3 separate regions of the Homo sapiens genome follow, and all the other regions are reported to be linked to region 1. Evidence: microRNA targets listed by miRTarBase, many of them from high-throughput screens and not tested one by one. Region 1 holds a microRNA gene; each other region holds the end of a gene's coding sequence.

Region 1 (3,000 bases):
CCAGGGAGCGGGGCAGGGCCTGGCCAAGAAGAGGAGGTCAGAGGACGCTAGGGGCTTGCTGGGGGTGGGAAGGAGATGACAGCCCCTGGCAGGAGGGCACAGACACCCCAGGCCAGCTCCAGCCAGGGTCCCTCACAGCCCCTGGAGACCGGGACAAGGACCTGACCACAGAAGCTGTCTCCACCCCACTTCGTGCCCTCTGCTCCCCAAGCTCTGCCCACTGCCCTCAGCCTTCAGTCCCCACCACCAAAACACCCCACCAGGTCATCCCTGACCCTCTCCCATGGGTGCCCTGGACTGACCTGCGAGGCTGCGCCCTGTGAGCCTGTCTGGTGCCCCACTGGTCTGCCCTGTCATCCCTAGGGCTCCCCAGGCCCCCAGTTCCAGCCTGCCTGCTCAGGGCCAGCCCCTTCCCAGGGCCCTGAACCCCAGAGTCCCTTTCTCCATCTCCCCAGTGAGGAACCCCCCCGGAAACTCCCATGAACACCCTCCCCACAGCTAGCTCCTGTTTCCCAGCCTGGGGATGGGGATAGCAACACCACCGTCCCGAACCGTGGCCTGGTGCCTCAGCTTGCCCTGCTTTGTGAGGGGCAGGCAGACGCCCCTGGGGAGCAGCCTGCTCTCCATCTGTCTTCCCTACAGACAAATAAGTTCCCATTCCTGCCTCTTCTGTAACCGCTCCCCAGTGTTACAACATACAGCGATAAACACGAGACCTAGATTCTTCACGGTAAACGGCAAAGGCCCCTGCCCTGGCCTCACTGCCCCGCCTCACCTCCGGCCAGCATGCTCCCCCTCTGACAAGAGAAGAGCCCTTCCTGAGTGGCTCCACGTCAGGCTGCCACCAGCACCCCCCAGCAGCAGACACAGGCTGATGCCCTGTCCTTGTTCTGCACCCCCGACGGCCCCATCCTTTCTGCCTCCCAAGCCAGACCCTACCATCAGCAGGTTCTCCGTGAGGATCAGCTCAGAGAGGTTCTCACAGTCCCCGATGGCCTCGGTCACCTCGCACAGCCGATTCTGGTCTACCTTTAGGATGGATAGCTGCTTCAGCTGACCTGGCGTCGGGGAGACAGGGGGACAAGGCTGAGCATGGTCCCCAGACGTGCCTTACCCACCTGGCCAGAAGCGCCCTCAAGGCAGACAGCAAGGCCCCCAGCCCCTTCTGCCGCCGCCGTACTTCGGGAGGACCCTACCTACCTTGCCCCACAAGCCTGACCCAACCTCCTTCAAGAAAACACCAGGCCCCAGTGGCACTGCCACCCTTCCGCCCTCACAGACTCCACCGCCCCCTCCAGCACCACCAGCTGCCTCCTCAGCCTTCTGGGCTGCCCCAGGGTCCCACCTCCCCTCCCCAGGGACAGCTCCCAGAGCCTGGGCACACTCAGGATCCTCCCCTGTGTTCCACACCACACACAGCCCCGACGCCCCACGCTCCTCCCAGGGCCAGGCTCCGTGTGCCCCACCCAGGCACCCCCAGGCACACTAACCGATGCCGTCGGGCAGCCTCCGCAGCAGGTTCTGGGACAGCAGCAGGTCAGTGAGCAGCACCAGCCCGCCGAGCTCAGCAGGCAGCTCCTCCAGCCGGTTTTCCGACACGTCCAGGCACACCAGGCGCCGCAGGTTCCCGAGCTCCTGCAGGTGGGCAGAGAGTCAGAGCGCGGATGGGCACGAAGCAGGGGGCCAGCCCCACCCTGACTCACCGGGGGCAGTGCTGACAGCTGGTTCCGGTCAAGCCACAGCTCCCGAAGATTGGGCAGAGCCCCCAGAGTGTCTGGCTGCAAGAAGGAACAGAGAAAATAGTGACTATGAGGCAAAGCCTCCTGCTGCGCCGTGCTCAAGAGACTATACGCCCCCACACCCAGCTCCCACCCGCCTGCCCTCCCGAGGTGCCCCTTGCTGTCGGATCTGCTCGCTGTCCCCTTCTTTGCCCTTGCTTCCGTGGCCCGCCCTCCGGTCTCTGCCCTGTCAGGCCTCCACGCACCAGCACTTCCAGATCGTTGCCTCCCAGATCCAGCTGTTCCAGCTTGACCAGAAATGACAGGGACCTGCAGAGGAAGCAGGGTGGAGGTGTGGCCACGCAGCCCTGGTCCCTGGGCTGTGGCCCTGCCCTGGCTGTTAGGAGAATGCCTGTCACACTCACGCTGGCAGGGACTTGAGCAGGTTCTCCCGGAGCTCCAGGGTCACCAGGTTGGCGAGGCTGAAAGAGAGACCAGGCGCTGGGGCAAGAGGAAGGAAAGCAGTGGCAGCAGGGGCAGGGCCAATCCTGGTCCCCCACCCCACCCTAGTTCCACCTGAGAAGGCACTCACTTGCCCACGTCCCCGGGCAGTGCCTGCAGAGACACATCATTCAGGGCCAGGTGAGCCAGGCTGCGCAGCTGAGTGAAGCCATCAGGGAGCCTGGATGGGAGGAAGCAGAGGCCCTCGGATGACCAGTCCAGGGCTGTGGGACCCATAGCCCCTACCGACCCCACCACAGGCTGCCACCCACCTGGAGAGGGGGTTCCCGCTGAAGTCCGCGATCTCCAGAGCCTTGCAGAACTTGATGCTCTCCGGGATCTCAGGGATATCTGTCACAGAGGGTCACAGTGGACAGATGCCATGGCCTGCAGGCCGTCTGCAGCCCCAGCGGACACTCCCCAGACCCCACCCAGCCCCTGCCCAGGCTCCCCACCGTTCCGGGACACGTCCAGCTCCACCAGCTGCATGAAGTTGGCCACCTCGGGAGGCAACCGCTGGATCTCGTTGTCGCTCAGGCCCAGCTTGCGCAAGTTCAGCAGCCGGAAAAAAGGCTGTGGGCAGGGAGGACACGGACTCTGTGGCAGAGACCACTGCAGAGCAGAGAAGAGCTCCTGGACACGTGAGTGTCACAAGTCAAGAGTCCCTAGGCCTCTGTCTGCTCCAGGTCACACCGGGTCCTGGGGTCTAACCACGACACCCCATTTGCAAAAAAAGGAAAGAAACACACGGTACACACGCCCACTGTGGCTGCCTCCCTCT
Region 2 (3,000 bases), not on the chromosome of region 1:
ACTTGTCACCATGTATGTGACAATGCCTATGCCAAGCACCGTGTGCAGTGCCCTTCATTCCACCCACACAGCTTCCCCGTGTCACAGGGGAGAGGACTGAGGCTCCAGAGGCAGTGTGAGAAGGGCCGGGGTCTGATCCTGGCAGCAGGATGGGGCGGGAGTGGGGAGAGCGAGGTCACTGTAGCCTGGGTCTCTGCAGGCACCAGCAGTCGCCTGGCAGCAAGGCCTTCCAGCGCATCCTCATCGACCACCTGCGGGCCCCGGACACCCTCACCACTGTGTTCTTCCCAGGTATGCGGTGGACCCCCACTCACTGTGGCCCTGGAGGGGCAGTGGGCTCCTGAGGGCTCCTGACCCCCTGCCTCTGACCCCCAGCCTCCTGGTGGATAATGAATAACAACTGAGCCAGACCTGCACACGCCGAGGGCCCCGGGACCCTGCCTGCCTCCCTCTGGAGCCTTCTGGACTGGCCAGCCCAGCGCAAAGACCAGGACTTGTCTCCTCCTGGACTTGGGCCTGGTGGAAGGGCTCTCAGCCCAGGGATCAGGGACTGGGCTGCTTGCTTTCTATTTATTATTGATTTATTTATCCCTGTATTTTATTGTTTGTCACTTCAGCCTCCAAGCTACTTTGGCTTCTGCCTGGCTCAGGAGACCTGGATTCTGGTCCCTGCTGTCCCTGCCTGGCTGAGCGACCCAGGGCAGGTCCCGTCCCTGTCTGGGTGGGCCTCAGGCCATCTGGCCGCCTAGCGAGGGTCCTGCTTTCTTCCTGCTGTCTTGGGACCAGGCTTCTGCTCCTCCTCAGCCAGCGGCAGAAGCAGGGCTGATGCTCAGGGACCCCCCAACCCTCAAACCTTGCCTCCGAGGCTGGGCCTGAGCTGGGTGCCCCGTCGCCCTCCCAGGCCACTAGGCTCTGACTCTTCCAGCACCCATGGATGTGCCAGAGGCCTCTGGGTTGGTTTGCATGTCATTTGCATATCGTTTGCATGCCCTCATCCCACCCATTCTCAGGGCAGTATGGGAAGCCCCAAGGTGACCTGGCCAAGTAGCAATAATTTGGGTCCAGGGTCACCTATTGCCCCCAGAGGCCTCTGAACCCCAGGCTGGGACCCCAGCACAGAGGCAATAAAGGCAGTGGTCCCTTCCAGTGTTGCCTCCTGTCTCGCAGGTCTGGGCTGTGGGGCCTGTGCGCCTCCCAGGCCAGAAGCTCCAGGCAGGGCACCTCTCTTGGGAAGCCCCCGGGTTCCCACCTTGTGCCCTCACGCTCGCAGAGTGGATGCTCACAAGAGCTGACGCAAGTTTTCCCACTTCAGGGTCCCTGGCCCTGACACACCCTGGTGCTGGGTCCTGCCTGAGGGAGGGGGTGACGTGTCTCTGCAGGTTTTATAGGGGTTCTGGCTTCACCCACACAGAGCCTCCTCTGGGCCCAGATCGCTCCTGTGGGAAGACCTGTCCTCACCAAGCTGGACTTGTCACTGCCACCCCACATAGAGTGGTTCCAGTTGGACAATGGCTGAGTCAGTCCTACTAGCCCCTGGGGGTGTCCTCCTGCCCCCCTCCATTACTGGGGGCATGGAGGGGAGGTGACCAAGAGGGACATCTAAGCAGCTGCTCTGAAGAGGAGGCCCCTGGCACCACAGAAGCACAGGATGGCATTTGACCTGGCCTGGGAGTGTTGGCGTCAGTTTTCCAGACAGAGGAGACGGCACATGGGCTCTGAGGAGAAGGAGGGCTTGCCTGGTTGAACCAAGGGTGACCCAGTAGCGGGGCTGAGCTGGGGGTGCCAGGGGGAGAGGGCTGGGTGAGGCTGGGCCTCTGAGGTGCTACATCCCAAGGAGGCCATGGGAGGCTTTAATTCGGGGTGAGGGGGTGGCCGGTGGGTTGAGTGCCCTTTCCATGTTCCTGAACGCCCTGGTGTTGCCAGGTCCTTACTGGGCTGAGGCCTGGCTACAAGGCAACTCAGATGGCACCAGTTCAGGGTGGGCATTCCCATCTGGGACTCCAGGCAGGGTCTTCCCTGCGGTTTCTCCCTGGCAGCCCCTGTGGGAGACAGTTTCTTCCACCAGCCTGGCTCCCTGGGCCACCTGCACAGAGGTCCCTGCTGGCACCCTGGCCAGTCCAGTGCCAGGCCGTCCTCCCGCCACCCCGCTTCCCAGATCTCTGGGAGCTCCTAGAAAGTGCTGCCACCATCTGAACCACATGGGGCTCTGAGCAGGCTTGAGGCTTGTTCGGGTGTAGTTGTGTGTGCCTGTAATTCCAGCTACTTGGGAGGCTGAGGCAGGAGAATCGCTTGAGCCCAGGAGGCGGAGGTTGCAGTGAGCCAAGGACTACAGGCGCACACTACCACGCCCAGCTAATTTTTGTAGAGATGGGGGTTTCGCCATGTTGCCCAGGCTGGGCAGTGTGTCTTGTTAGAGAAGACAGCTGAGGAGGACATCGCCCTGCTTTACGTCCTGTGTTGTAAAGGCTTCTTTTGTCCTCCACAAAAACTGTAGCAACAAATCCTCAAAACTAAAAAAACTTCCCTCTGCCATCTTTATTTATTATTGTTATTTTTTGAGACGGAGTTGCTCTGTCGCCCAGCCTGGAGTGCAGTGGTGCGATCTTGGCTCACTGACCCTCTGCCTCCTGAATTCAAGCGATTCTCCTGCCTCAGCCTCCCCAGTAGCTGGAATTACAGGCACACACAACTACACCTGGCTAATTTTTTTTGTATTTTTAGTAGAGATGGGGTTTCACCATGTTGGCCAGGCTGGTCTTGAACTGCTGTCCCCAAGTGATCTGCACACCTTGGCCTCCCAAAGTGCCGGGATTACAGGCATGAGCCACTGTGCCCAGCCCACTGCCATCTTTAGACATGCCCAAGCCCTCAGGCTGACTTATCTGTGGTGGGCGTCTCCTTAGTTTTTGTGCCCTGGGCACCCTGCCTGCCTCGCCCTGCAGTGCAGTTCTGAAGGTGGACACCTCTTTATTACAATTTTTAATAAGAAAGGCTGTGTCC
Region 3 (3,341 bases), not on the chromosome of region 1:
TGGATGGATTTGCCTACTGTAGCTACATCACATTAGTGTTTCTGTGTACTTTGAAGCCAGATTGGCAGAGAAAGAAAAATGGTAAGGAAATAGCTTCTTGAGATATTTGGCTGTGAATATAGTATATGTGGTAGCTGGAGGGGATAAGGGTGGGGTTTTGGCTTTATGTTTTAAGATGGTTGCAATTTGAACTTAAGAGTCAAAGTTGAGAGTTCCCAAGTCAGAAGGAAGTTGAATAACTGAGGCCTGCAAAGGCATGGTAAGATCAGCGACTGTGTTTTGGGGTGGGGAGAAGGGGGCACTGGAATAGAAGTTTGGGGTGAATTTATGAAGGGAATCTTTTGCCAGGATAAGTTTTAAACTTTAATAATATCACCACCAGGATTTGAGTACCTTTGCCAGGCACTGGGTTAGGTACTGGACATAATTCTCTTTTATAACCACCCAGCAAGACAGGTATTATTGGTATGAACTTATTCATACTTTTTTCTTTTTTGAGACAGAGTCTTGTTCTGTCACCCAGGCTGGAGTGCAATGGTGCCATCTCGGCTCACCGCAACCTCCGCCTTCTGGGTTCAAGAGATTCTCCTGCCTCAGCCTCCCGAGTAGCTGGGACTACAAGTGTGTGCCACCACACCCAGCTAATTTTTGTATTTTTAGTAGAGACAGGGTTTCATCATGATGGTCAGGCTGATCTCTAACTCCTGACATCGTGATCCACCCACTTCAGCCTCCCGAAGTGTCAGGATTACAGGCATGAGCCACTGCACCCAGCCTGTTCATACCAGTTTTATTGGTATGAACTCAGTTTGAGAGAATTTGCCAAAGACCAGTTTTTAGTGGATAGGCTCAAAATATTTGAAACATAACCAACTTTGTGAATGTCTGTATGAGAAGGCAAACAATTTTGGCCCTTTAAGCTCAGGTTGGAGTGTTACTGGCTTCACTGAGTGTCTCTGGGCAGCCTTAAAGATGCTGAAGGGTGGGGGTGGGAGGGTTTGGAGAAGAAATTAGGAGGTGCAGAAAGAACAGGAGATGGCCAAAGTCAGCCTAGTTTGGTTAAGAAAAAAATTTGGCCATGCCTTTGGTAAACCGGGGGGAGGCCTGTCATGGACTTCAGGCCATGTACTAAAGGATCTATTGGACCAGGCCTAGGATTGGCTGTGCAAAGCAAACAGCAGGCAGATAATCATGCTTAAGAGTGCAGGGAGGGCTGGGCGTGGTGGCTCACGCCTGTAATCCCAGCATTTTGGGAGGCTGAGGTGGGTGGCTTACTTGAGGTCAGGGGTTAGAGGCCAGCCTGGCCAACTGGGCAAAACCCCACCCGACTCTACTAAAAATACAAAAATGGCAGGGTGTGGTGGCTCATGCCTGGCCTCAGCACTTTGGGAGGCTGAGGCGGGCGGATCACTTAAGGTCAGGAGTTGGCCAACATGGTGAAACCACGCCTCTACTAAAAATACAAAAATTAGCTGGGTGTGGTGGTGGGGGGTGGGGTGCCTGTAATCCCAGCTACTCAGGAGAATTGCTTGAACCCAGACAGCGGAGGTTGTGGTGAGCAGAGATCGCACCACTGTGCTGGGCGATAGAGTAAGCAAGACTCTGTCTCAAAAAAAAAAAAAAAAAAAAAGGCCGGGTGCAGTGGCTCACACCTGTAACCCCAGCACTTTGGGAGGTCGAGGCGGGCGGATCATGAGGTCAGTAGATCGAGACCATCCTGGCTAACATGGTGAAACCCTGTCTCTACTAAAAATACTAAAAATTAGCAAGGCGTGGTGACATGCCCCTGTAGTCCCAGCTACTTGGGAGGCTGAGGCAGGAGAACTGCTTAAACCTGGGAGGTGGAGGTTGCAGTGAGCCGAGATCACGCCACTGCACTCCAGCCTAGGCAACAGAGTGAGACTGTGTCTCAGAAAAAAAAAAAAAAAAAGAGTGCAGGGAAAACATGGGCAGCAAGTGGCCACAGACCTGGTGAAACCACTGCTACAAATGGGCAACACCCTCAGGAGACTAGCCAATGCTCTTGGGAGACAGAGGGACTAGCCACAGGACTCTTAAAGAGTAGCAGAAAAATATTCTAGATTAAGTCAGAATATCTTGGACTTGTTAACTAAATTAGTTCAATAATGATCAACTGACATATCTAGGTTAAAAGGCTATTTTCATTCCTCAATGTTACAGTCAGAATATTTACAGAAGTATTTATTTTAAAAGTAGACTTAAAAAAGAAAAGTAATTTAGATTAAAAGATCCAAGGTGTATTGTTTCATGTAGGTGTTACTGCTACCTATACTTTCACCCCATTTATTAAGCCCAAAACACTTCAAGCAACTTCAGGTTCATAAATTAATAAGGAGGTACAGAAGCCCAACCAGGATGGGAAAGAATGTGTTTCAGGTTAGAAGGGGACAGCATGGCTCCTCAATGATGTCTTGTATGGAACATTTGTGCTCCACTGTAATGAAGATTTTCTTCCTGAAAATCTGAATGTGACATTTTAGATCCTCTGGTTGTTGGTTTAGTCTCCCGATTGTAATGGTGTGCTGAAGTCAGGTGGTTGACTAGAAGGTCAATCCAAGCTCCTAGGCTCCCCTCTCTTGTAGGCCTCAATTATCCACCTGTGAGGCTCAGGAGGGCTGACCAACCTGAAGGTTGGGAAAACTTGCTTAAATGAGGAATTGCCATTTCAGCATAAACTGTCCTTAAGTCTACTGTAGAAATTGTTTTCATTCTGGAGATGGTGAGTCCCAGAAGATCATGGCCAAGATGATGTCCTAAGTAGCTTCCTCTGAGATTTTATGCCCAAGAGGGAGCCATCTGGCCACTTGCTTCTTCTTACATTTCTAATAGCTGCTCCATTTCCTTAAGGGCTGTTGTTAAATCATTTACTTGATTGTTACATAAGGTTTGCTGTTCTAGGAATCGGACTCTTTCCTCTTTCATCTCCAGCTTTACCTTTAAGGCCTGCATGGAAAGACATTCCAAAAGAAAACAACACATACACAAAACTCTTGACTAACAGGAAACACAATTCCCACATCAGAACATTATGCTCCTATTCCACTAAGGAAGACCACTGGAGTATCAACAGACTGTATCTTCTATTTTAGATTTTATTTCTATGCACTGGTTTTAGGAATTGTCCCTCTAGTAGTAGAGAGGGACTAGACTCCTGTATCTAAACTGGAACGATGAAATCCTCTACATTTGGTGCAATATCCCATGATTCATCCAAGCAATCTGAAACAGTCCAGACCAAAGAATCTGTGCTTACTACAGGTCTTCTCCTTGAGTTATCAAGTTTCCATAGAATGGATTACATATAGTTCTCAATTCCCAAC

The links. The annotated mature microRNA hsa-miR-937-5p reads GUGAGUCAGGGUGGGGCUGG and lies in region 1 at 1,684-1,703, opposite strand. An mRNA with a match to its seed (bases 2 to 7 or 8) in the 3' UTR can be bound and repressed. Matches are read on the target gene's strand: a 7mer-m8 pairs with bases 2 to 8, a 7mer-A1 pairs with bases 2 to 7 and ends in A, and an 8mer does both.
Region 2: miRTarBase lists NECAB3 as a target of hsa-miR-937-5p. The part of its 3' UTR that is shown has no 7-base or 8-base seed match.
Region 3: the mRNA of KNSTRN is a reported target of hsa-miR-937-5p. The part of its 3' UTR that is shown has no 7-base or 8-base seed match.

The regions. Positions count from the first base shown.
Region 1 is chr8:143,811,327-143,814,326 of GRCh38, forward strand. It overlaps MIR937 (microRNA 937), which reads right to left and starts at 1,716; the gene lies at 1,631-1,716. It overlaps SCRIB (scribble planar cell polarity protein), which reads right to left. Exons shown (of 37, transcript NM_182706.5): 2 at 2,675-2,792; 3 at 2,492-2,570; 4 at 2,311-2,400; 5 at 2,144-2,200; 6 at 1,985-2,048; 7 at 1,704-1,778; 8 at 1,491-1,635; 9 at 940-1,058; 10 at 1-19. RefSeq lists an enhancer at 2,825-3,000.
Region 2 is chr20:33,655,233-33,658,232 of GRCh38, reverse strand. It overlaps NECAB3 (N-terminal EF-hand calcium binding protein 3), which reads left to right. Exons shown (of 12, transcript NM_031232.4): 11 at 200-291; 12 at 376-1,146. The coding sequence ends at 404. Among named protein-coding and RNA genes, the nearest start is that of C20orf144, 5.6 kb to the left of the region's middle. RefSeq lists an enhancer at 1,438-1,938.
Region 3 is chr15:40,393,092-40,396,432 of GRCh38, reverse strand. KNSTRN (kinetochore localized astrin (SPAG5) binding protein) reads right to left here. Exons shown (of 9, transcript NM_033286.4): 9 at 2,145-2,964. The coding sequence ends at 2,836. Among named protein-coding and RNA genes, the nearest start is that of IVD, 11 kb to the left of the region's middle.